7 linked regions of the Homo sapiens genome follow. The protein of the gene in region 1 purifies or fractionates together with the protein of each later gene. This does not show direct contact. Each region holds a gene or a part of one and is shown in the gene's direction. Other genes may lie near its edges.

Region 1 (3,500 bases):
CCTGTCTGAGTCTGCCGTAGGGGCTTGAGCTGGAGAGGCTCTTCTCTCTGGAATGTTGTTGGTCAGTGTTGCAGTTGGAAGAGAGCCTGGAAGCTGGCTTTTAACCCTCTGTGCACTTTCCCTTGACCATTACTAGTCGCATTGTTGTGCCTGATATCAAGGGGTGAGGAGGGGTAACCCTGCGTGCTCTGAGAGGTGGAGAGACCTCACTTCTGATGGAAGCTGGACACGCCCACCCCACCCACTTACCCCTCAAGTCCCCTTAACTGCCATATCTTGTGAGGTGGTTCTTGGTTCTCTCTTCCTTGTCCCCATCAACCCAACTCAGGCTGGAAATGAGCATTTCTTCCTCTGGACTCCTGTAACCCTTCATCTCTTCTCCCTTCCTTGAATTATGGTGATTTCATGCATACCTTTCCCCTTTTCTTGCCTGTATTCCAACCATCTTTTCCTCCTTCTATTCTTAGTATTGCCTTTTCCACATAACAGTCTCATAAATGGCTAGATGGTTTGTGGGGTGCAGAAGCAGGGAGACTAGGTGTATATAGAGCTAGTTCAGACAAGCTGGGGTAGGGGCCCGAGCTGTGGCAGCAGTGAGGAAAGGGGGATTGCAGAGATGGAGCCATGACCAAGCTTTGCATAAATGAGGAAAGCACAGTGACATGGAAGTGCTGTGTGTCAGCAGAAGAATACCATGGAGATTTGAGTGCTATTTCCTCACAGCTGCATGTGCCACCAGAATAAAGTGTACCCACTGGATTGTGGTGTATTACTTAAGTATCACCATGATCACATAAATCACCATGGAGCTTTCGAAGCACAAAAAGAATGCCTTTCAGAGGAAATTGTTATTTGAAGGAGTTGGCTGCTGAGTGTTAGAAATCATCTAGGGTTAGAAATCATCCTCAGTAACAGAGGGCAGGTGAGCTACAAATTGACTAGAAGAAACATGGCCCCTGTCATCCCTGGGCAGGGACACATGCATAGCTATTTTAAGATTAGGTTAAACTGATTCTGTTAGCTGCAGGTCTGGATCTTCCTGAAACATGGGGGCCAGGGCAGGGGGCAGCTGCAGCTGTTTAATGTGGCTCCTCTTGGCTTCTGGACACTTTATGGGCTGTGTGGCTGCTGGTGACACTGTTGGACCAGAGAAGTTCAGATCCTGCTATACCATTACCCTTTTACAGTCGAAGCTCTCATATTCATTTGGGAAGAACAATAAAAATTTCCAGTTAAGGAAATGCTTACAGACAGTTGGTGCTTGAACTAGCTCAGCAGCAGCAAGGCCACATCCCTACCCAGGGAAGAAAGGCAGAGTCCCCAGCCCAGTGCCTTGAATGGTATCTCTGCCTCAACTTCCCCAGAGTTCCAAAAAGTCTGCTAGTCTGCTGTGGGTGTGGTTCGTTTAAGACAGGGTCTCACTTTGTCACCCAATGAATGCCACCCCTTAAGTAGGCAGAGCCATGCCCATCCTATAGATGAGGAAGCCGAAGCTCCCAGGGTCACTCAGATAGTGTGGCTAAAGCTAGGTCATTCTAGCGGGGATTTTTACAAGCTGTGTTAAAAATGTCATCAGAGGTAAGGGCCGATCTCAGTATTTGGTTGGAGTAATTAGTCCATTTAAAAAAATCTCATTTTGAACTCATTTTTTCTAGATAACCTCTTTGTGCCCAACCAGAACGGATACTACTGTCACTCTCAGACAAGCTTGGATAGAGCCCAGATTGACCTCAACGGTCGGATCCGTAATGGCAGTGTCTACAGTGCACACAGCACCAACTCCTTAAATAATCCTCAGCCCTACTTGCAGCCCTCGCCGATGTCGTCCAACCCTAGCATCACCGGGAGTGACGTCATGAGGCCTGACTACCTCCCGTCCCATCGGCACAGCGCCGTGATACCCCCGTCCTACCGCCCCACCCCAGACTATGAGACTGTGATGAAGCAGCTCAACAGGGGCCTGGTGCATGCGGAACGGCAGAGCCACTCGCTGCGAAACCTCAACATCGGCAGCTCGTACGCCTACAGCAGGCCCGCGGCGCTGGTCTACAGCCAGCCCGAGATCCGCGAGCACGCACAGCTCCCCTCGCCAGCGGCCGCACACTGCCCGTTCAGCCTGAGCTACAGCTTCCACAGCCCGTCTCCCTACCCCTACCCTGCCGAGCGGCGGCCCGTGGTGGGCGCGGTCAGCGTGCCGGAGCTGACCAATGCGCAGCTGCAGGCGCAGGACTACCCGTCTCCCAACATCATGCGGACGCAGGTGTACCGGCCACCCCCACCCTACCCGCCCCCCAGGCCCGCCAACAGCACGCCAGACCTGTCCCGCCACCTTTACATCAGCAGCAGCAACCCCGACCTCATCACGCGGCGCGTGCACCACTCGGTGCAAACGTTCCAGGAGGACAGCCTGCCCGTGGCGCACTCGCTGCAGGAGGTCAGCGAGCCCCTCACCGCCGCGCGCCACGCGCAGCTGCACAAACGGAACAGCATCGAGGTGGCCGGGCTCAGCCACGGCCTGGAGGGCCTGCGGCTCAAGGAGCGCACCCTATCCGCGTCGGCGGCAGAGGTGGCGCCGCGAGCCGTCTCGGTGGGCTCCCAGCCCAGCGTTTTCACCGAGAGGACACAGCGAGAAGGGCCGGAGGAGGCGGAGGGCTTGAGGTACGGCCATAAGAAGTCCCTGTCGGACGCCACCATGCTAATCCACAGCAGCGAGGAGGAGGAGGACGAGGACTTCGAGGAGGAGAGCGGGGCCCGGGCGCCTCCTGCACGTGCGCGCGAGCCTCGGCCCGGCCTGGCCCAGGACCCACCTGGCTGCCCTCGCGTCCTGCTCGCCGGGCCCCTGCACATCCTGGAGCCCAAGGCCCACGTCCCAGACGCGGAGAAGAGGATGATGGACAGCAGCCCCGTCCGCACGACCGCAGAGGCCCAGCGGCCCTGGAGAGACGGGCTGCTGATGCCCTCCATGTCGGAGTCCGACCTCACCACGTCAGGCCGCTACCGAGCCCGGAGGGACTCTCTGAAGAAAAGGCCGGTGTCGGACCTTCTCTCTGGGAAGAAGAACATCGTGGAAGGGCTCCCGCCTCTAGGGGTAAGCCACGCGGCGAGCAGTGCCGGGCCAGGGGACCGCGCGTTCGCCCTGGCGCTTCTTTCACTCATCACGTCCCGTGTTTTTCAGCTCCTCTTGTTCTTTTAACGTTCTTCATTCCCCCACGTCACTCTCTTTTTGTCTAATTCTGAACACATTTAAATTTATGGAAATCATGGGGATCCACTTGAATTTTAGTGGTTTTACTGGAGATAATTATTATAGATGAAGTGAAAAGGTAAATTCACAGGGTTTTGTCGAAATGGAAAAGATGAATGAAATGTTTTAGTAATGCACTGTTAAGGGAAAGACAGTTAAGATTTCATTACTTTAGCCACGATTGCTTTAGCCACCCATTAAAAATACTGTGGGTGATGTGGCACCCCAGGGGTGCATTTGTTTAGTTTGCTCAAGA
Region 2 (3,500 bases), on another chromosome or scaffold:
GAGTGGGGACACTGGGCCCTCAGCCTTTCTCTCAGGCAAGTCCCTGCCAATCCCCAAACCTATGACAACCTTGAAACAAAAGCCAAGGATCAAGAAACACAGACCTAAGTTTCTCTCCTAGCTCTATGATTCCCTGGCTATGTGACTTTGGGCAAGTTCCTTTACCTCCCTGAGCCTCAGTTTCCTTGTCTGCAAAATGTCAGTAATAATGGCCACTGAGGAGAGGATGAAATGAGACCACACCATGCCTGGCAGACCAGAAGTGCCCAGTAACTGTCAGCTCCCTGTCCAATGTGGAGCTGCACAGCCATGCTGTGGCTGGACGCCCCAAAGGGCCAGACCATCCTGGTAGCATGAATCCCAGACTAGGTTTCTTTTGTTTTGTTTTTTTGAGACTGAGTCTCACTCTGTCACCCAGGCTGGAGTGCAGTGGTGCCATCACAGCTCACTGCAGCCTTGACCTCCTGGGCTCAAGCGATCCTCTCACCTCAACCTCCTGAGTAGCTGGGACTGCAGGCACTCGCCACCACGCCTGGCTAATTTTCTGTATTTTTTGTAAAGATGGGGTTCCGCCATGTTGCCCAGGCTGGTCTCAAACTCCTGGGCTCAAATGATCCTCCCACTTCGGCCTCCCAAAGTGCTAAGATTACAAGCATGAGCCAACACGCCTGGCCCCTGGACTAGTTTCTATGGATCCTTTGGAAAACTGCAGCATCAAATCGTTTCTTCCATTTTGTTGTAGTTTTTAATTTTCCCTCCATCCAAAGGGTTTGAGGTGTCTGAGAAGTTGAAGCATGGGAAAAAAAACGAAGATATCTGGTACAAAAAATAAAAGTCAGAGATTATCCGAGGGGCAAAGATGGAGTAGATGTTGCCACACACCTGAGCTCCAGGCTAAGCTTCCTGGCAACAAATGCACAAAAAGGAAACAGGCTGAATGGTGTCATTTCCTTCTAGGTTGCTATTGGGTAAGCTGCAGAGTTAAAATTCTTAGCTGACTCCCTGCTCTGTCTCCTCAGGCCAAGTTGTTGGACTCACAGGGAAAGGTGACCAAGTGGTTCAATAACTCTGCAGCTTCCCTGACAATGCCCACCCTGGACAACATCCCGTTCAGCCTCATCGTGAGTCAGGACGTGGTGAAAGCTGCAGTGGCTGCTGTGCTCTCTCCAGAAGAATTCATGGTCCTGTTGGACTCTGTGGTAAACCTCAGCACAAGGCAGAGAATAGGGCCGCCCAGGCCACATCATAGGAATTTCCTGAACACAGGGTGCCCCTAAGCAGGAATCCTCCATCAGGCTCAGTTTAATGGAGATCTCACTCCCTCCTCTAATAGACCCTGCCTCTGACATAGCTCTAAACCTAAAATCCTCCCGGTAACATCCAGCCCCAGTCATGGTTCTACCCTCTGGAATCTGATGCAAATGTTTCCTCTACCAAATAACAGTCTCGTGAAATCAAAAGGCATCTTAGATATGCAGTAGTCCAGGGGTGATAAATACATCTCAGATAGTGAGTAGTCCAGGGATGGCGACTGTGCCACTGCTCACCACTATGACACTCATGGCAGACATCACTAATCGATCAAGGCTCTCCTTTCTACTGAGTCTGGATGCTGACACAACCTTGGAATCCTTATTAACAGGGCACAGCCGATAACCACCACCAGTCAACTATGTTGTGCCACCTCCTCCCGGGTGACTGACGGGGAAATTGAGGTCCAGAGGGGGAAAGGGTTGGTCCAACGTTATGGGAGGATGGCAGAACTTCAGGGCAGCTGACAGACAACCAATAACCAAGCTCTCAGGGGACTGGGATGGCGAGAAAATAGGGAGTGGTCACCAACTAGCCCATTCATGATTGCAGTAAAAATGAAATCACCTCTCTATGTCCTCTGAGATCAGGAAGCTGCCCCCAGACCCACAACCATCACCAGCCCACAGTAAAAGTCCAGGCCAGCAGGACCCCATGCCCCATAGAAGCTGACCTAGGGGCTGTTTTTCCACCAATGACAGACACATGGCTTGGGTCACTGGGCCCACCCAGCTTTTCTGGGGTCCTGGGAAACCTTCCTCCCAGCAGTGGGGTGCAGGAGATGTGCCTCCCTGTGCCCTCCAACTGACCTTCTCTGGCTCCTCTCACCCTCAGCTTCCTGAGAGTGCCCATCGGCTGAAGTCAAGCATCGGGCTGATCAATGAAAAGGTTGGTCTGTTTGCCATCTGCAGCTTGAGGGGTGTTTGCTGTGGTCTGGACACAGGCCTCTGGGGAGGAGAATCTAGTGGGACTAGTGTTTCATTCCAGCACTGGGACACTCAAACCGCATCCCTGTCCGCACAGAGATTTCAGTCTAGCAGGCCAGTTTGACCTGAAGCAAATCATCACATGGATAGTATTTCCATTACAGCTGCAGTAACACAGGACAGGTTCTAGGGGCCATGAGAACACTCTGGGCCCCTGATACAGTCTGGGACGTCAGGGAGGCCTCCCTGAAGGGAAGGGCATTCCAGACAGAGGGAACAGGAGACCAAAGGCTGCCAGGTAGGGAGAACAACACAACATTCAAGGATCTGCAAGAAGGACAGGGTGGCTGGAACACGTGAGGGAGCAGGGAGCCCAGGAAGGCAGGCAGGGGCCAGGCCACACACAGAGCCTGTGGGCCATGGTGGGCACTTGGGAGGCCACATGTGGGTCTGATCTCCTTCCAGGCTGCAGATAAGCTGGGATCTACCCAGATCGTGAAGATCCTAACTCAGGACACTCCCGAGTTTTTTATAGACCAAGGCCATGCCAAGGTGGCCCAACTGATCGTGCTGGAAGTGTTTCCCTCCAGTGAAGCCCTCCGCCCTTTGTTCACCCTGGGCATCGTGAGTTCAGTTGTCTGCGATATTGGCAGCAACCAGGGGGACCCTTCTGTCTACTTTTCCTGTTCGCCCTCTTGCTTTGTTAAACATTTCCACCACTCTCATCACTTAGCAGGGACAGGGGACAGGGAGCTCTGAACCAAGAGCCAGGAGCTTTGTGGGTCCAATTCTAACCCTGTGACTTTCTTAGTCAGGAATCTCTGGACAGAAACTCAACTCATATGCACAAAAGGAATTGTATTAGCTCCTATAACTAAAAAGTCTAGATGCTATTGACTTCGGGAATAGCTGGACCCAGGTGCTCAAACAATATCCTCTTCATTCTCCTCTCTCCCACCTAGCAGCCTTGTTTTCCTCTGTGCTGCCTTCATCCTCAGGCAAGCTATTCCCTCATGGTAGTGCCCCAGGCTGCATTAGGCTCATATCCTATCAGCTTGGCAATCACCGCAGGAAGAACCTATCTTTCCAATAGTTCCAGCAAACATCTCAGGGCTGACTCTCACTGAATGAGCCTGAGTCAGTTGCCCATTCTTGAGCCAATCAGTGTGTCCAGAAAAATGGAATATGAAAACTTCCTGAGCTGGGCCACCTACACACTAGGGTAAGGGAGTGAGGGCTCTATGAATAGTGGCTGCTTTCGTC
Region 3 (3,500 bases), on another chromosome or scaffold:
GCCTGGCCAACATGGTAAAACTCCATGTCTACTAAAAATACAAAAATTAGCCGGGTGCAGTGGCATGTGCCTATAATAATCCCAGCTACTTGGGAGGCTGAGGCAGGAGAATCACTTGAACACGGGAAGCAGAGGTTGAGGTGAGCTGAGATGACGCCACTGCACTCCAGCCTGGGCAACAGAGTGAGACTGTGTCTCAAAAAAAAAAAGGGGAAAAAAAAGAAACCATGGATATGGAGAGCTGACTGTATATTAAACACATAAATATATGTATGCACTGTGCAGGCATATTAAGTAGATAATATATATTTCAAATAAGTAATATTTTAGAAAAATGACTTGTTGAATTCTGGGGTATTGGTAAAGAAGAGGGCACGTTTAATTCAACTCAGGGTATGTTTTATTTAACTTTAAAATCTCACAGTGCCTTACTCAGCGTAGATATTTGGTAAATGTTTGGTGTATTCTCTTAGGCATGCTGCCTTGCATAGAGTAGGCACCATTATAAGCTTTGGTTGAATCAATTCAAGATTCATTCAGCAGAATTTTTTTTTTTTTTTTGAAATGGAGTCTCGCTCTGTCACCCAGGCTAGAGTGCAGTGGCGTGATCTCGGCTCACTACAAGCTCCGCTTCCCGGGTTCATGCCATTCTCCTGCCTCAGCCTCCCAAGTAGCTGGGACTACAGGTGCCCGCCACCATGCCCAGCTAATTTTTTTGCATTTTTTAATAGAGACGGGGTTTCACCATGTTAGCCAGGATGGTCTCAATCTCCTGACCTTGTGATCTGCCCGCCTGGGCCTCGCAAAGTGCTGGGATTACAGGCGTGAGCCACTGCACCCGGCCTCAGGAAATATTTTTTAAACATCTGCTATGTGCTGCACATTCTCTTAGGTTTGTACAGTTTCTATGACAATTATGTATATAATGCAAGTTTTTGGAACAATGCCTTTCCTATGGCTTTTTTCTCTCTTCAATAGTATCTCATTCAGATTAATAATGGTCTTAATAATTGATAAGGATGCTACTGATAGGACATGCACTATAACACAAAAAATTTCAGCTTTTCTTTTTTTTTTTTGGAGACGGAGTCTTGTTCTGTGGCCCAGGCTGGAGTGCAGTGGCACAATCTCAGCTCACTGCAACTTCTGTCTCCTGGGTTTAAGTGATTCTTGTGCCTCAGCCTCCCAAGTAGCTGGGATTACAGGCATGCACCACCACACCTGGCTAATTTTTTTGTATTTTTAGTAGAGACGGGTTTCGCCATATGCCCAGGCTGGTCTCCAACTCCTGAGCTCAGGTAATCTGCCCACCCCCGCCTCCCAAAGTGCTAGGATTACAGGCATGAGCCACTGCACCCGGCCAACTTCAGCATTTAAACTTCAATTTTGAAATAAGTGTAAACCTCTATAAATATACCAAAATATATTTTTAACAAATAACTCTTTGGAATTAGGGTATGGAGTAGGTGGATGGAAAAATGGTAGCGATGAAGAGTGGAAGATTAGTAGTAGTAACAGGGAAGCGGTTTCCAGTAGGAAGTCAGGAAGATGGTAATAGAGGCCCTCAATCTTAACTGTTTCAAAAGGCCTGGCAAATTTTACACTGACTAGAGAGAAAAAGCTGTGTAGACTCACCAGAAGGTGGGATTTCTTTGCTTTGGGCTAGAATTACACCAACTTAGTATAGTAGCATTGGCTAATCTCATGCCGCTCAGAAACTCGGATTGTTGCCTGTGTCTTCTATAACAATTACAGATTACTGAGTGTATAAAGATTCTTTCAAATCAGGCAGTCACTGTGATCCAAAGAATAGAAGAAGTATTTGGGGAAAGTCAGGTTGCCTTCAGTAGAAAGCCAAAGTAAGGGTAGCAAAAAATGAGCAAAAGTAGAAGAAAATAGATTAAAAAGATGAGAGAAGCACTAAACTTGGAAGAAAGGAATAAAGTAATTTGTGTCCAAATTACTTTGGGCGTAATCATTTAGTGGGAGCAATCATTTGCCTCCCACTAGATCAGCGAGTCTGTAGAACCGTATTTTCTGAAATCGGCTTTCACACTTTAAGTTAAATGGAGGATAAGTAGCTGCCATTAGTTTTTTTGTTTGTTTGTTTATTTGTTTACATGGATCACCAGATACACCTTAGGAAAATTATAGTGGTTTTTAGAAAATAAATTTAAGTCTTTGCTAGAATGTTAGTGAATCAAGTATTTATTGAACACTTCCTACCTACCTCCCCCCAAACAGCATATTTTAAATCAAATAAATCTCATCAGTCTTTTTGTCTTAACCTTCTCAGCAGTTTTAGTGATATCTTCACGTTGCTCTCAAGATAAAGCCCTAGGCTCTTCAGATTGACTTTCAAAACTCACCTTGATCTCAATAGGATTCACCTATTGAGGGTACCCTGGTTCAGTGAAGCAGTGATTTTCTTTTTTTTTTTTTTTTTTTCTGAGATGGGGTTTCGCTCTTGTTGCCTAGGCTGGAGTGCAGTGGCGCAATCTTTGCTCACTGCAACCTCGAAGCAATGATTTTCAACTGGGGACTGGACTGCTTGTTGCCCTAGGAATCATTTGGAACTATATGGTTATTTTCTGGTTTCACAGTGATGGTGGTCTTGGTTGAGGGTTGCTGCTGGCATTCAGTGAGTGGGAACCAGGGATGCTAAACCATTCTGTAATGTATAGACTACACATTGAAGAATGGTCATCCCCAGAATGCCAAAAGCACCATTGAGAAACTGTAAGAAAGAGGAAAGAATGTGGGTTTTGGAATCAGAAAGAACTGGATTCAAATATCAGCCCTCCCCTCTGTAAAATAGGGGTGGTAATACTTTTCAGTAAGTAGGTAGGCAAGATTATGTTTGTAAGGTCCTGTGGCTTTACAGGTTTCAATAAATGGCCACTGCTATTAAATATGATTGTTTTCTGTTCCAGTACTCCTGGATTCTTCATGGGTCTTATTAACATCTTTGAATATTCTCACTTCTCATACTATTTCCACTTAAAATTAACTAGCTCAGGCTTGGCGCAGTGGCTCACACCTGTAATCCCAGCACTTTGGGAGGCCAAGGCGGGTGGATTATGAGATCAGGAGTTCAAGACCAGCCTGGCCAAGATGGTGAAACCGCGTCTCTACTAAAAATATAAAAATTAACTGGGCGTGGTGGTGGGCGCCTGTAATCCCAGCTACTCGGGAGGCTAAGGCAGAGAATTGCTTGAACCCAGGAGGTGGAGGCTGCAGTGAGCTGCGCGCCACTGCACTCAAGCCTGGGTGACAGAGCAGACTCCGTCTCAAAAAAAAAAAAAAAAAAAAAAAAAACTAGATCGGAGCAGCTGAAATAGGCACAGGAGAGAGAAAGGGGTGGGTTGCTGCTATTCTCTTAGGTTTATGTGATTTTTTAAAAAAAGATCTGATGGGGTTACATCAGCTGGTTCACAGTAAAGGTGGGAAATGCCTCTTGTTTCAGGTTCCGATGTGATTCAGAAGGGCAGTTCCCTGGG
Region 4 (3,500 bases), on another chromosome or scaffold:
CCAAATAATTTATTATTATTATTATTTGTATAGATGGGGGTCTCCCTATGTTGTCGAGGCTGGTCACAGACTCCTGGGTTCAAGTGATCCTCCCACCTTGGCTCCTGTAGTTCTGAGATACAGGTGTGAGCCAGAGTGCCTGGCCTGTGATACCACTTTTTAACACAAACAATTAGAAAAATGCTGTATAAAAAAGTTGTCCTTTTTTTTTTTTTTGACAGAGTTTCGCTCTTGTTACCCAGGCTAGAGTGCAATGGCGCAATCTCAGCCCGCTGCAACCTCCACCTCATGGGTTCAAGTGATTCTCCTGCCTCAGCCTTCCAAGTAACTGTGAATACAGGTGCCTGCCACCATGCCTGGCTAATTTTTTGTATTTTTAGTAGAGACAGGGTTTCACCATGTTGGCCAGGCTGGTCTCCAACTCCTGATCTCAGGTGATCCACCCATCTTGGCCTCCCAAATTGCTATGATTATGGATGTGAGCCACCGCGCTGGGCCAAAATTTCTCCCTTCTGTAAATTCCTATTCCGTGCCTCTGTGTCATGCCATCCATAAGCCCAAGGATTAAAGATGTGAAGACCTGCTCTGCTCAGTGGAAGCAAGCTCATGGTCCAGTCAGACAGTCAGATGGGAGCTTCAGAAGCTGATGGATGTGGAGAGAATGATGTCTGATAGCAGGGCCCACTCTGAAATAAGGGAACTTAAAGAAAGCCTTGAAATACAAATTGGTATTCACGGGAACATAAGGCCCCTCCTGTTTACTTACAGGAACCTTCATCCATATAATTGTTTTGAAGGCAATAGCTCTATAACAAATTATTTACCAAATTACATTCCTAGAAACAGAAGTTTGATTAAGTACATGCCAAAATAGTACCATATAGCATAGCCAGCTTAGTGTATTGGACTGTCTTAAAAGTGGCATAGCTTTAAAAAATATAAACAAGCTTCCAAAAGTGTTGAATTTGCTCACAGATGAGAGTTTTTGATTACTAAGATACACCAAGGTTGTTTAGGATCATAACTTTTATAGTTTGGCATTAGATCTTATCCATGTTCTCATTCTCACAAATGTTCCGTGTTTCTTCTTCAGAATAAAACACTCAGCTGGATACATTAGAGCACACTGTGCCACCTTAGGGCACAGAAAGAAAATAAAGAATTGCACCTTACATTTTATTTTTGGCTCATTCTTATTTATGTTCTATTTTATGTGTTTTGTAGTGTATCTTGTATGTTGAAAATTAAACAAATAGATGTATGAATACATACATGAACTTTAATCAGATGTACAAATGTAGGAGGATATCATCCAAAATTATTAGCATCTCTTTAGTAGGCTTTGTTTGGTTGTAAGTGATAGAAAACCTCAGTAAGAGTGACTTGGACACAGTATGCTTATTATTTAGTCAAGAAAAATCTAAGTAGGTGGTCTTAGAGTTAGCGTAGCAACCTCGTGAGTTTATTAAGGGTCCAGAATTTGCCTATATTTCCATACACATATTTTGCATGATGACTTTCAAGAATAAAATTTCACCTCATGATGAATTACACTTACCTTAGCCAATGCCTCTGTGATTTCAGGTGGGTAATACTATGTAGATAATATATAGTAAAATGCATAGGTATATTCTAAGGTTTCAAATGTATTGATAATTGCAGTTATTTACTTAGAGAATGATCATACCCAATATTTTATTATTGTTTATTATATTGTCATTAAAAAGTTATAATAATGTTGTTTTCTTTGAATTCAGTAAAGTCATTGTGAAGGTTAAGCATGTGCATTTTAAATTAATTTGGAGATTCTTTAAGCTATGGAAATGGAAAGCCTCAGTACATGTTAAGCCTGATATCTGAGCTTTCCCACCCCAGACTTTTGCAGAGCCATTGACTTGGGTCTCTGATCCTCTGTAATGTGCTGATAGATGATAACATGATGGAGAAATCAGTTGGTAGAATGGGGCGGTAACCACTAGAGATAGCAGTTGTCAGATGGAAATTAATTGATTGTAATTGCTTTGCCATTGTATTGCACTTGAAGTCTGTAGCTTGTTAAAACCACTGATTATAAAATAAGGATCTCACTTTTTATGCTGTAGATTATGTTAATGAAAGCTGTTCTTAGAAGCATGATCAGTGAATATCAATAAATGGATAATAAGAAATTAAAGGAAAAGTTAACTAACTGATCATGAGTTAATATACTTCAGCAGCCAGAGTAGCAGTCAACTGTGCACCGTTTCATATTGAATTTTTTGCTCAGAGCTCTTGAATTTTAAATATTTCCCATAGAGAGATTGATTCTGTGTGACTGTTTATCACGTACTGTCTTGAATAACAGATCTTTTCTGTAGAGAATCTCCTGCAAGATGGAAAATGTGTGTGTTTTGCAGAGCCTTTATTTTGTGCCAAAGTATTAACAAGCAGATATTTTGAAATGGAAAACATAAGTTCCCATTGCAATACCAATAGTGGTTTATTTCAGTGCTCGTGGAATATGAGTAACATATGTGTGAGGGTCTGTGTGAATCTGAAGGCCTTGCTGTTGCAATCTTTATCAATATTATAAAAAGTATACTAAAATGATAACATAAATGTTAAATTATACTTCACTTTTTGCTGTACAAAATGCGTTAACTTTTATAAAATTATAATGAGGTTTTTAATTATAGCTTTCATTTATAGCATTTAATTGTTGATGTTAGAGAGATCAGAGATTTTGGAGATATTTTTCTGAACACCAGTTCTCATTAAGCCTCCATGCAGGCCCTCAAGGACCTTACAGAAGAAAGGAACAGATAAAACAAAGAAAGGATTACTTGCAGTGTTGAATGCAGTGATGAAAGTGATAAGAGGCACTGGGAGGCACAAGATGAGATCATCTAAGTTCTGAGGATTTCTGGGTGTCTTCAACAAAGAATGAAGGTCTGGGAAGAAGGAGCAGTGTGACAGTTCTTGGTATTTTGGGGAAATAGAATGATAGTTGAAAATTAAGTTGCATAAAGTTTTAGAGTGCAAGAAGAGACCAGACAGATAAACATATAGATGGCCCATGCCCTGGTTTGCCCTACTGTGGATTTTAAAGTTATTCCCACAGGAGAGCCCATGAGGATTTTTAGATGTGGGAGAGACAGGGGTGAGTTTCCTTTTAAACTGCTCGCTCACCATCAGTTGTGACGATAATCAGGGAAGAAGCTCATTGTGACCTTCATTTACTGTCTTAGTCCATTTTCTATTGCTTTAACTGAATACCCGAAGCTAGGTAATTTATAAAGAAAATACATTTATTTTTTGCAGTTTTGGAGGCTGGGAAGTCTAAGGTCAAGGGGCTGCATCTGCTGAGGGCATTCTTGCTGGCAAGGACTCTGCAAGCCCTGAGGCAGTGCAGGGCATCACATGGATAGGGAGTAAGAGCATGTCAACTCAGTCCTTCTTTCTCTTCTTGAACAGCCAACAGTTCCATCATGGGGGCCTCACCCTGATGACCTTATCCATTC
Region 5 (3,500 bases), on another chromosome or scaffold:
CAGTGGCACAATCTCGGCTCACTGCAACCTCCACCTCCCAGGTTCAAGCGATTCTCCCACCTCTCAGCTTCCCTAGTAGCTGGGATTACAGGTGCGTGCCAACACACCTAACTAATTTTTGTATTTTTAGTAGAGACAGAGTTTCACCATGTTGGCCAGGCTAGTCTCGAACTCCCAACCTCAGGCGATCCATCCGCCTCAGCCTCCCAAAGTGCTGGGGGTACAGGCATGAGCCACCACGCCTGACCTAAGAATTTGCTTTTAAGACAAGCATCAATTTGTGCTTGTTTGTTACGATGAAAACTATTTGGAGTTAGAGTAATAAGTTGATAGCGGTGGTGCTGAATGACTCTTTATCTTCTGTCAGTGATAGCAGATTAAGAAATTATTCTTATGATATCTACTTTTTCTTGTTAGAATTTTACTGAAGTATTAAAAGGCAAAATTTTCTCATTGACTATATTCTCTACTTAGCACTAGAGGGCAGCACAGAGCTATTAATGTTCTTCCTACCTGGTCATATCTGACCAAGGAAAACAGGCAAGATAGAAAAAGGTGTAGGAGAAGAGGACCAGGGGTGATGGCTCATGCCTCTAATTCCAGCACTTTTGGAGGCCCAGGCAGGAGGATCCCTTGGGCCCAGGAGTTCCAGGTTGCAGTGAGCTATGATTGCATCACTACACTCCAGCCTGGGCAACAGAGCATTTCTAAAAAATAAAAAAATTTATAGAAGTAATTTTCTAGTGCTTACATTATTTTTAAATATTTTCTCAAGATGGAGAGCTCTATGCATATGCATATTCTTCAAATACAAAATTGATATAACTTTATTTTACAACAATGTATTAATACATTTACTATATTCTAAATACTGTTTTAACATGTTAATAAATTTCTAGTCTGCACAAAATTTCTACATAGTAGAATCTGTGGAATAGGAAACACAAACTCATAAGGTTATCTTAATGAAGTTGCTGAACTGAGTAACTGTTAATATTTTTTAAATGCATATGAATGCTTTAACTTTCTGTAATTTTGTTTTAACATTATAATGTTTCATAATTAACAGTATAGGCTATCTCAAGCTTATAGCTAGATTATATTTCATTTATATTTTCAAATCTTCCAAACTGTAAGGGAGTTATTGGAACGCAGAAGAAATTTTCTTTAATTATTCATGGTTTGCCACCACCCACCCCAAAAGTTTTCCTCCTGGAAAATATGAGAATAAAATACTGGTTTAGTAGAAGCAAAATAGTATGTTTCTTTGAAAAACATATCCAGAGTTCAAATATGGGATATTATGAATACATCTTTTCAGTTCAAGCAGAACCAAGATTCCCTCAGCTCTAAGAGCTAGAGGCACCCTATAAATTGAGAACTACTGTATTAATTGCTAAAGTTAAGGAAATAAGAGAGCTCCAAGGCCCTTTCACTGTGTCAGCTAGTCCCATATCTATCTGGGGTCAATCCTAGACCCTTTTTCTGGCCAAGACACTCCTTTAAGCTTCATACCCATATTCAGTTCCCTGATCAACATTTTTACTTGGACCTCTTAAAGGTATCTCAAACTCAGCATTTCTGAAGCAGAACTCATGACATTTACATCACACCATATTCTGCTCAACTCTTCCCAAACAGAGTCTCTTCCAGTTTACCTAGTCTTGGTGAATGACAGCTTCTAGCTACACAAAGTCAGAAAATTTAACAGCTTCCTATTTCAACTCCCATAACACTGTTCAATTCATTAACACATACCATTGACTTTTTTACTCTCGAAATATCTCTTGAACCCATCAGTCTTCTTGATCTTTATTCTTATCACTGGAGCTTAAACTGTCATCAGTTTTGAATCAGCCCTTTCAGTAGCATCGTTTGTTCTTATGCACCATACCTATTTCCCTCCCAACCTACATATCTTACTAATATTTGGTTGCCTGCAAGGTTCCATATAGTGTGGCTTCTGCCCTGTCCTTCTCTGCCTCTCCATCACTATGCTTCCAGAGTAGCATTTTCTCAGTTCCTGGAAGGGGCGAATTTCTCTTTTTTTTTTTTCTTTTCCATCTCATATGCTGTTCCCTTAGGAAACAGCACTCCATTTCCTTTCCCCCATTATTTCCAGTTATCAATTCAAAGACTGCTGCCTAAGGGTTGTGTTGCCTGCTTTCCCCCAGTCTAGGCTAGGTTTTATTTTTTTCTACATATGCTCCTAAATCCCATTCCTTTCCTTTGTGTCACCTACCTCAGTTTGCAATGATATATTTATATTTATGATTGTTTAATCATCTCTGCCTGAACCACAAGACAGTATGTTTCTTAAGGGCAAGGATGCTATCTGATTTTATTCACAGTAATATTGTTAGTCCCCACTGTGGTGCCTGACACATACATACTTGCTCAATTTAAATTTATGAATGAACGGTCCCGTAGTCATTTTCTCACATTTCTGAGGATTACTGATCTGCTTATTTACCCTTCCACTGGCACCATTTGGGCTCCACACCAAGGTACTTCCTCCTTGGGCCTTTGTGTCAGATTTCCGACAACACTTTAAAGTTCTCAAATGTTCATTTTTATTTCTTTCTTTTGTTGCTGGTAACATAGGGAAAGCAGACAGAAATCAAAATCCTCTCTTCAAATCTGATAGTATATTTCATATTTTCTTCAGTTGGTTCTAAGATATACATTAAAACATATACATATAAGCTATGCATGCACACACACATATATATAACATGCATATATCGGTATGTAATATACTTATGAGTGTGTGTATGTACGTATTTTTTCCTCTTCTATCTCTGAAATTATAGGTCTCACAGTCAGTGTCATCATGTAATTTGTGGCATTGAAGTAGGACATATTTAACTTTCAGAGGAAATCTGTTTTCATGCGGAGCATAGCACTGGAACCAGGGCTAAGGCTTTTAGATAAATATCAGGATCAGGCCTCTGGATGGCAAACTATGAAGAAACCAGTCCCACTGGTGGGAGCTGAAGAAGTAGCAGCCAAGATGGTTCGCTTTGCAGTGTCACTCTCTTTATTCCTTTGCCATTATTATTTTTGTCATAGCTACCTTAATTTCCTCAGACTGTTTCTTGGCCCCCTTTAACCTATTGTGGACTTACTGTGTACCTAGCACTGTACCAGGGAAATAACCATGAAAAGGACAGAGTTCTAGTTATGCCTAATGAAAGAATTGGTGATTCTGGCCCACTAAAAGAATCATTGCCCCTAGACTGGGAGTTGCTGATTTAGTATATTCTAATGTGAGGGCAGGGAAAAGCAGATATGTAAACATAAGGACCATACAGAGTAAGTGCAATCCTTTAGGTAAGTAAAAGTGCTTTTTGAGCAAAAAGACACAACGATTAAGTAAATCCTGGGCAACTAGAGAAAACTTCCAGCAGAGATAGTGTTTGAATTGGGCTGTGAAGTTTAAGTCAGAGTTTATTGCAGAGAAGTGGCAGGGTGGATGGTGGCATTCTAGATGGGAATTC
Region 6 (3,500 bases), on another chromosome or scaffold:
CAGACGGGGTGGCGGCCGGGCAGAGGCTGCAATCTCGGCACTTTGGGAGGCCAAGGCAGGCGGCTGGGAGGTGGAGGTTGTAGCGAGCCGAGATCACGCCACTGCACTCCAGCCTGGGCACCATTGAGCACTGAGTGAACGAGACTCCGTCTGCAATCCCGGCACCTCGGGAGGCCGAGGCTGGCGGATCACTCGCGGTTAGGAGCTGGAGACCAGCCCGGCCAACACAGCGAAACCCCGTCTCCACCAAAAAAATACGAAAACCAGTCAGGCGTGGCGGCGCGCGCCTGCAATCGCAGGCAGTAGGCAGGCTGAGGCAGGAGAATCAGGCAGGGAGGTTGCAGTGAGCCGAGATGGCAGCAGTACCGTCCAGCTTCGGCTCGGCATCAGAGGGAGACCGTGGGGAGAGGGAGAGGGGGAGGGGGAGAGCTGAAAATCCTGTTTCTATTTCAGCTCTCCTCAGAGGTGAGCTGATGCCCCCTGCTTCACTCGCTGATGCTCCCTGCTTCACTCCCCTCCTTGTTTTCCTTCTACAGAATTCAGTTTGCCTGTTCTGTATGCAAGTTCCGTAGCTTTGATGACGAAGAGATCCAGAAGCATCTGCAAAGCAAATTTCACAAAGAGACCCTGCGGTTCATAAGCACCAAGCTGCCCGACAAGACCGTGGAGTTCCTCCAGGTAAAGGAAACCTGGGCCCCGTCACCGCGTCTCTTGCCCATCCCGCAGGTGCCGGATCCCTTGAAGGAGGAAGGGAAATCAGAGGCTATACTTGGCCAAGGTTTCCTTTCCCAGATAGAGTAGCTGTGTAAGTCCCTGAGTCACAGGGACAACCGGGAGCTCCAGCCATCGTGCTGTGCTGCCCCACGCAGCTGCTCTGATAGCTGCCTGCCTAGCCCTGGCAGTTGAGAAATGCCCACATGCGCCCACCTCTCATTTTACTTTATGCCCTCTCCAATCCCACCTAGGAATACATTGTAAACAGAAATAAGAAAATTGAGAAGCGGCGTCAGGAATTGATGGAGAAAGAAACCGCAAAACCAAAACCAGATCCTTTCAAAGGTGAGTTGTCATCCCAGGATGAGTGCTTTCCTGGATGGTAGTAAGGCATGTGACAGGACCCGTAAAACGTGGCACGAGGCCGGGCACGGTGGCTCACACCTGTAATCCCAGCACTTTGGGAGGCTGAGGCAGGCGGATCATGAGGTCAGGAGATCAAGGCCATCCTGTCTGACACGGTGAAACCCCGTCTCTACTAAAAAAATACAAAAAATTAGCCGGGCGTGGTGGCGGGCACCTGTAGTCCCAGCTACTTGGGAGGCTGAGGCAGGAGAATGGTGTCAACCTGGGAGTCAGAGCTTGCAGTGAGCCAAGATTGCACCACTGCACTCCAGCCTAGGCGACAGAGCAAGACTCTGTCTCAAAAAAAAAAAAAAAAAAAGTGGCATGAAGCCAGCCCAAGTTGGCTGAGAAGGTGATGACGAGACCCGTGGGAAGAGCGCTCAGCAGCAATGGAAAGAAACCTTCGGATGTGGCCTTGCATAGATTGCAGCTTATATCAGTGACATTAAGCACTTTCATATCTTTTCCTCCTTGGTTTGAAAAGAAACAACCAGGAGGAACAGAAAAGCTGAAAAGTGCAGAATTCACAGCTATAGAGGCCGATGTGCTGACCCATACTCCCCATAGAAAGGCAGGCTGTGCCCTTCTGATTCCTTAGAGTTGCAGGGAGAAAACGTGGGCCCAGATGGGGAGTAGGAGGAAAGCATCACTTGCTGTCCCAGATCCTACAAGACATGCGTTTCCTGGCAGGGATTGGCCAGGAGCACTTCTTCAAGAAGATCGAGGCTGCTCACTGCCTGGCCTGCGACATGCTAATTCCTGCACAGCCGCAGCTCCTCCAGCGGCACCTGCACTCCGTGGACCACAATCACAACCGCAGGGTGAGTCTTCCTCCCCACACTGCCTGGGGTGCTCATTGCAGGGCTGCGGCTCAGAGCCTGCTGTGTCTTATGGGGAATAACAACATCTTTAGGGGTTCTTGCTATGTTTCAAGTCTATCACTTCCATCGATGGGTCGTAAGATTCGTCTCAATTTTTATAAAAATGTGAGAAAATGTGTTGCTTAGACTCGATTAAATGCAGTAGCTGAGATTCTCCTGATAGTGTTTCCACGTTGGTCAGTTTTCCCACTAGCGGAAGGCCTGGGGGCTTCCATAAGCTGAGACCGAAGGGCCATTGAAAGCTGAGTGGCCCAGGGGACTTGGACTAAAGGACTGGTTCTGTCCTTACCTAGCTGCTGGGGCTTCAGGCTAAATGTTGAGCCCAGGGGTCAAGTGTTGAAGATGCTGGAAAAATACCTTATTTTGTAAAGAGTCAGATCATGAGTATTTTTAGCATTGCAGACCATAGAGGCCCTATCCAGCAACAGCTCTACCTGCTGTCAGTGCAGAAAAGCAGACAGTGAAGAGTGCCTGTGGCTGCGTTTGCTCTGCAGCCTGTCACTTTCTGGCCCTGGGTTAGCAGCTCTCTCCTTAGTTTACTCAGCTATTAAATGGGGAGGTCAAGAGCTGCTCACCCATCTCACAGTACTGTGTTTTGGTTTTGGTTTTGGTTTTGGTTTTTTGGTTTACGTTTTTGTTTTTTTGTTTTTTTTTTACGGAGTTTCACTCTTGTTGCCCAGGCTGGAGTGCAGTGGCACGATCTCAGTTCACTGCAACTTCTGCCTCCCAGGTTCAAGCAATTCTCCAGCCTCAGCCTCCTAAGTAGCTGGGATTACAGGCGCCCACCACAATGCCCGGCTAATTTTTTGTATTTTTAATAGAGACGGGGTTTCACCATGTTGGCCAGGCTGGTCTTGAACTCCTGACCTCAGGTGATCCACCCGCCTCAGCCTCCCAGAGTGCTGGGATTACAGGTGTGAGCCACTGCACCCAGCCCCAGTACTGTTAAAGATCAGCTGAAAAGCAGTATACAAACAAGGGACCATTGTGCAAACAAGTCAGGCTCTAAAACAGAGACTTGGTGCAGTCATGGTTGTGTGTTTGTTTTTTGTTTTTGTTTTTGTTTTTAATTTTATTTTTTGAGACAGAGTCTCACTCCATTGCCCAGGCTGGAATGCAGTGGTACAATCTCAGCTGATTGCAACCTCCATCTCCCAAATTCTCATGCCTCAGTCTCCTGAGTAGCTGGGATTACGGGTGTGCACCACCACACCCAGCTAATTTTTATATTTTGTAGACAGGGTTTCACCATGATGGCCAGGCTTGTCTCGAACTCCTGGCCTCAAGTGATCCACATGCCTCAGCCTCCCAACGTGCTAGGATTACAGGCATGAGCTGCCACACCCAGCATATTCATACTTTTGTTGTTGAACTTATGAAATCAATGTAACCCCAAAAACTGAAAAGAAAGAGCTTGTCCTTTTCCTCCACTGAGTCCACACAGCCTTTCATTTGTAAATGCTCTTGTTTCACCCCCAATTCTGCATGTGCTACATGGGT
Region 7 (4,012 bases), on another chromosome or scaffold:
TCTCAGAGCCGACCAGCCTCGGGCGGAGTCGGGGGGTTAAGCCCCAAGGAGGGGCACCCCGCCAGGCAAAAGAATGGACCAGATAGACGGCAGGGTCCAGCCTCAAGCTGCCACCCTGGCTCCGTAGGGAAAGCACTGCAGGTCCTACGCAAGCGCGCCGCCTGCGTCTAGCCGCTTTGTTCTAGCGCTACCTGCGGGTCCATTCACCTCCGCTGCCCCGCCTGCCTGCAAATCGACACACAGGGCGGGCGGAGGCCCCGCCCACTTCCCCGCCCTGGGTGGAAACCGCGGCGGGCCCCGCCTCCCTCCGCCACCGCCTCTTTCGGCCAGGATTGGCCATCTGCATGGCAGGCGCCCGCCTACCGCGGAAGTTGATTGGTCCGTTGAGAGGGAGGCAGGGGAAGGAAAGCTGATTATAAAGGAGCATTCCCCTCCCACCGGCCCCGTGGAAAAAGTCACGTGGCGCTTCACTGGGCGCCTGTCACCACCCCGCTTGTAAAGCTTTCTTAAAGGGCTCGCGATCCCTTCCCAAAGCTGGTCCTTTCTAGGATTTCTCCACACCTGCCCACGGAAGGTGGCACGGCCCTGAGTCTTCCTACCCCGCCAGTTGCCCAGGTCCTGATTTCCCATCAGGCCTGCTGGCGTGAGACGCTCTCCCTCAGGTCTGGAGCCTGTGACCGTCAGGGGAACGATGAGGTCCTCTGAAACGGTGACCGCCTAGCACAGTGCCTGGCACGTAGTAGGCGTTCAGTTCTCATTTGTTGAATGAACTCGATGACAGAAAAAATGAATGGGATGACAGGCGGGAGGAGGAGAGGTTGCTCAGCTTGACCATCCCCCCCACCACGCCCCGTCCCAGGAAAACTATGCTGTTGTGAATGTGGGGTGGGGGTGCCAGGCATAGGACGCCCCCAGGGCCTCTCTTCCCGCAGTGTCCAGAAGAGCTTGGGAGCACGCGCAGAGTGAACCCATGAGGGCGTCTAGGCCGGGGTCCCTAGGCGGATCGTAGTCAGCTCCGAGCTAGTCCAGGGGGCAACGGTGCGGAGGCGGTGGGGGAGGGCCCCGCCGCTGGTCTCCCGGGCTCGGGTCGCGAGCGCGCCCGCATACCCCGTGGGGAGGGGCGGTGGAGGCGCTGCGCCTTTAAGCCCGGGCGCCGGCCCCCGCGGCCCCGCCCCCCGGAGAACGCCTCGGCGCGCGGCCGCCGGAGCCGCCGTTTAATTGGGGCTGTCAGGCCGCGGTGCGCGCGGAGGGCCGGGCGGGCGGGCGGGACGGAGGCCGGGAGGCCGGGAGGCCGGGGCGGCGGGCGCGCAGCTCGGCGGGAGGCGGGCGCCCGGAGACGCGGCTGGGGCCCGCGCGGCCGGGGCGCCGTCCCAGGGCAGGGCTGCCCGGCCCCGGCCCCGGGCCGCCCGCGCTCCCCATGAAAAACCAGCTCCGCGGCCCCCCAGCGCGGGCGCACATGTCGACTTCGGGGGCGGCGGCGGCTGGGGGCACCCGGGCGGGGTCCGAGCCCGGTGCGGGGTCGGGGTCCGGCGCAGGCACCGGGGCGGGCGCGGCGACGGGGGCAGGGGCCATGCCCTGCAAGAGCGCCGAGTGGCTGCAGGAGGAGCTGGAGGCGCGCGGCGGCGCGTCCTTGCTGCTGCTCGACTGCCGGCCGCACGAGCTCTTCGAGTCGTCGCACATCGAGACGGCCATCAACCTGGCCATCCCGGGCCTCATGTTGCGCCGCCTGCGCAAGGGCAACCTGCCCATCCGCTCCATCATCCCCAACCACGCCGACAAGGAGCGCTTCGCCACGCGCTGCAAGGCGGCCACCGTGCTGCTCTACGACGAGGCCACGGCCGAGTGGCAGCCCGAGCCCGGCGCTCCCGCCTCCGTGCTCGGCCTGCTCCTACAGAAGCTGCGCGACGACGGCTGCCAGGCCTACTACCTCCAAGGTGAGGGCGGCACCGAGACGCCTTACGGGATCGGGGCCCCCCCGCGACTCCCTGACGCCCCCCTTGGAGGCGCTTTCCTCTCCACGCGCTCGGCCTGCCCCTCTGGGCGCCACGTCGTCCCCGGCCCGCATCCGCCCTCCTGGAGCCGGGTCCCCACTGTGTGGTTTGGCAGGCGCGGGGCTCCCTCTGCGCCCCCTTTCTCGGCACGATTCGAGTGGGTGGAACAAACTTTCCCCTGCCTGGGGTTTCCTTTTTTTTCCTGTTGATGGGGCGACAGTAGTGCCTGGGCTCCAGTGGAGCCCCTCAGAGGTGGAAGGCGCCGCCTCCCAGAACCCTAAAAGCGGCAGGGCGCCCAAGTCCAGCCTAGAATTCGTGTTTCTGGAAGGCCAGGATCAGGAAGGGCACCTTTCATAGCACCATCCTCACCTCCAGCGCATGGAGACCATTTGGGTTGGGGTCTCCTGGATCCGGGAATTGCTTCTTCCACCGGAGAATTGCCGCCTCTAGGAGGCGCTTGGGGCAGGGTATGGGCAGGCTCCATTGCCCTGGCCCGGGTCTCTCGGGACCCCCAGGTCCCTAGCCTGCTGCCCCGGAGCTTGCAGAAGGGAGAGGTAGCACCGGGGGGCGAGTGGCTGAGGCCGGTGTTTCCAATTAACATTCCAAAATGGCCTCTTGCTGGCAGCGGGGCGGGCGGGAGGGGAGGGGAGGCCTGCGGCACCCTCGGGCGCAGGGCCCATGCCTCGCTGCAAGGGGCTCCCCATTTCTCCTGTCCCTGTATCGCCCCAGTGGCCCTCCCCCGCTGCAGGTCCAAGGCTGGGGGTGGGGCTTGTGTTCTAAGGGAGGGTTCTAGAGAAGTGGAGCCAGGACCCCCTTCAAAAACCTGCCCCTGCTGGGGGAAGGGGCCAGCCAGTACCTTCCCACTACCCTCCCCAGCTGTAGTTTCGGGGCTGGGCAACCACTAGACTCCCGTTCAGGAAGCCCAGGACCTCTCTGCCTCTAACTGAGCCAGATGTGGCTCTGGCACCTGTGGTCTCATCTATAAGAGGAGTTTGCCAACCCAGAGGTGCTGGCTAAGATGGGGTTGTCTGCTTTTCTTTACCACTTAGCTGTTACTGAACACCCATGGGTGCTAGGTGTGCGTGGGAGCTGCAGAAGAGGAATTAGCTGGGGCCTGTCCTCAAGTGCCCTAAAGCTGGTGCCATGGCTGGGGGCCCCGAAGTGTTATGGGTACCAGTTTGGAGTCCAGGCACGTCACTTCACCTTCTGGGGCCTCAGTTTCCTTATCTGTGAAGTGGTCATGGTTTAGATGGAGAGAACACGAGAGAGGGCACACGTGTAACATGCTTGGCATGGCCCATGCTGACCGTGGGTGCTGTGGTGTTTGGCGTGCAGAGTCCTGGCCATCTCTGGTCTTGTGCAGCCCATCTGGGCTCTCACCAGCCTCTCACCCAGGCCCTGTCTCACCCTGGACACAGGTGGTTTCAACAAGTTTCAAACAGAGTACTCTGAGCACTGCGAGACCAACGTGGACAGCTCTTCCTCGCCGAGCAGCTCGCCACCCACCTCAGTGCTGGGCCTGGGGGGCCTGCGCATCAGCTCTGACTGCTCCGACGGCGAGTCGGACCGAGAGCTGCCCAGCAGTGCCACCGAGTCAGACGGCAGCCCTGTGCCATCCAGCCAACCAGCCTTCCCTGTCCAGATCCTGCCCTACCTCTACCTCGGCTGCGCCAAGGACTCCACCAACCTGGACGTGCTCGGCAAGTATGGCATCAAGTATATCCTCAATGTCACACCCAACCTACCCAACGCCTTCGAGCACGGCGGCGAGTTCACCTACAAGCAGATCCCCATCTCTGACCACTGGAGCCAGAACCTCTCCCAGTTCTTCCCTGAGGCCATCAGCTTCATTGGTAGGTGCTGTGTGCTGGGCAGGGGGGTGTGGGTGCATCAAGGTGTATGCAGGACTCTGGGTGGCGCCCCCGCCTGACTGGGTACCTCTGGGCCTGTTGAGACCTGTGTGTGCCCTACGTGTGCCAGCGTGTGCCCGTGGGTGTACCCAGGCCTACTGTGAGTCACCG

What was found.
Region 2: the proteins of PTPN21 (region 1) and BPIFB1 purify together in Homo sapiens (affinity purification with mass spectrometry, with the first as the bait; one large-scale study listed by BioGRID). This does not show direct contact.
Region 3: the proteins of PTPN21 (region 1) and CEP85 purify together in Homo sapiens (affinity purification with mass spectrometry, with the first as the bait; one large-scale study listed by BioGRID). This does not show direct contact.
Region 4: the proteins of PTPN21 (region 1) and NRG3 purify together in Homo sapiens (affinity purification with western blotting, with the first as the bait; one study listed by BioGRID). This does not show direct contact.
Region 5: the proteins of PTPN21 (region 1) and STXBP4 purify together in Homo sapiens (affinity purification with mass spectrometry, with the first as the bait; one large-scale study listed by BioGRID). This does not show direct contact.
Region 6: the proteins of PTPN21 (region 1) and AKAP8 purify together in Homo sapiens (affinity purification with mass spectrometry, with the first as the bait; one large-scale study listed by BioGRID). This does not show direct contact.
Region 7: the proteins of PTPN21 (region 1) and DUSP7 purify together in Homo sapiens (affinity purification with mass spectrometry, with the first as the bait; one large-scale study listed by BioGRID). This does not show direct contact.

The regions. Positions count from the first base shown.
Region 1 is NC_000014.9:88,478,508-88,482,007, reverse strand, and holds part of PTPN21 (tyrosine-protein phosphatase non-receptor type 21), read left to right. Parts: intron 1-1,655; coding exon 1,656-3,088; intron 3,089-3,500.
Region 2 is NC_000020.11:33,300,214-33,303,713, forward strand, and holds part of BPIFB1 (BPI fold-containing family B member 1 precursor), read left to right. Parts: intron 1-1,019; coding exon 1,020-1,199; intron 1,200-2,145; coding exon 2,146-2,199; intron 2,200-2,702; coding exon 2,703-2,861; intron 2,862-3,500. UniProt on the Homo sapiens protein: May play a role in innate immunity in mouth, nose and lungs. Binds bacterial lipopolysaccharide (LPS) and modulates the cellular responses to LPS.
Region 3 is NC_000001.11:26,240,700-26,244,199, forward strand, and holds part of CEP85 (centrosomal protein of 85 kDa), read left to right. Parts: intron 1-3,466; coding exon 3,467-3,500. UniProt on the Homo sapiens protein: Acts as a regulator of centriole duplication through a direct interaction with STIL, a key factor involved in the early steps of centriole formation.
Region 4 is NC_000010.11:82,354,194-82,357,693, forward strand, and holds part of NRG3 (pro-neuregulin-3, membrane-bound isoform), read left to right. Parts: intron 1-3,500. UniProt on the Homo sapiens protein: Direct ligand for the ERBB4 tyrosine kinase receptor. Binding results in ligand-stimulated tyrosine phosphorylation and activation of the receptor. Does not bind to the EGF receptor, ERBB2 or ERBB3 receptors. May be a survival factor for oligodendrocytes.
Region 5 is NC_000017.11:54,992,765-54,996,264, forward strand, and holds part of STXBP4 (syntaxin-binding protein 4), read left to right. Parts: intron 1-3,500. UniProt on the Homo sapiens protein: Plays a role in the translocation of transport vesicles from the cytoplasm to the plasma membrane. Inhibits the translocation of SLC2A4 from intracellular vesicles to the plasma membrane by STX4A binding and preventing the interaction between STX4A and VAMP2.
Region 6 is NC_000019.10:15,359,288-15,362,787, reverse strand, and holds part of AKAP8 (A-kinase anchor protein 8), read left to right. Parts: intron 1-536; coding exon 537-678; exon of another isoform or gene 679-737; intron 738-965; coding exon 966-1,059; intron 1,060-1,809; coding exon 1,810-1,940; intron 1,941-3,500. UniProt on the Homo sapiens protein: Anchoring protein that mediates the subcellular compartmentation of cAMP-dependent protein kinase (PKA type II).
Region 7 is NC_000003.12:52,053,772-52,057,783, reverse strand, and holds the start of DUSP7 (dual specificity protein phosphatase 7), read left to right. Parts: upstream 1-1,212; 5' UTR 1,213-1,417; coding exon 1,418-1,934; intron 1,935-3,409; coding exon 3,410-3,844; intron 3,845-4,012. UniProt on the Homo sapiens protein: Dual specificity protein phosphatase. Shows high activity towards MAPK1/ERK2. Also has lower activity towards MAPK14 and MAPK8. In arrested oocytes, plays a role in meiotic resumption.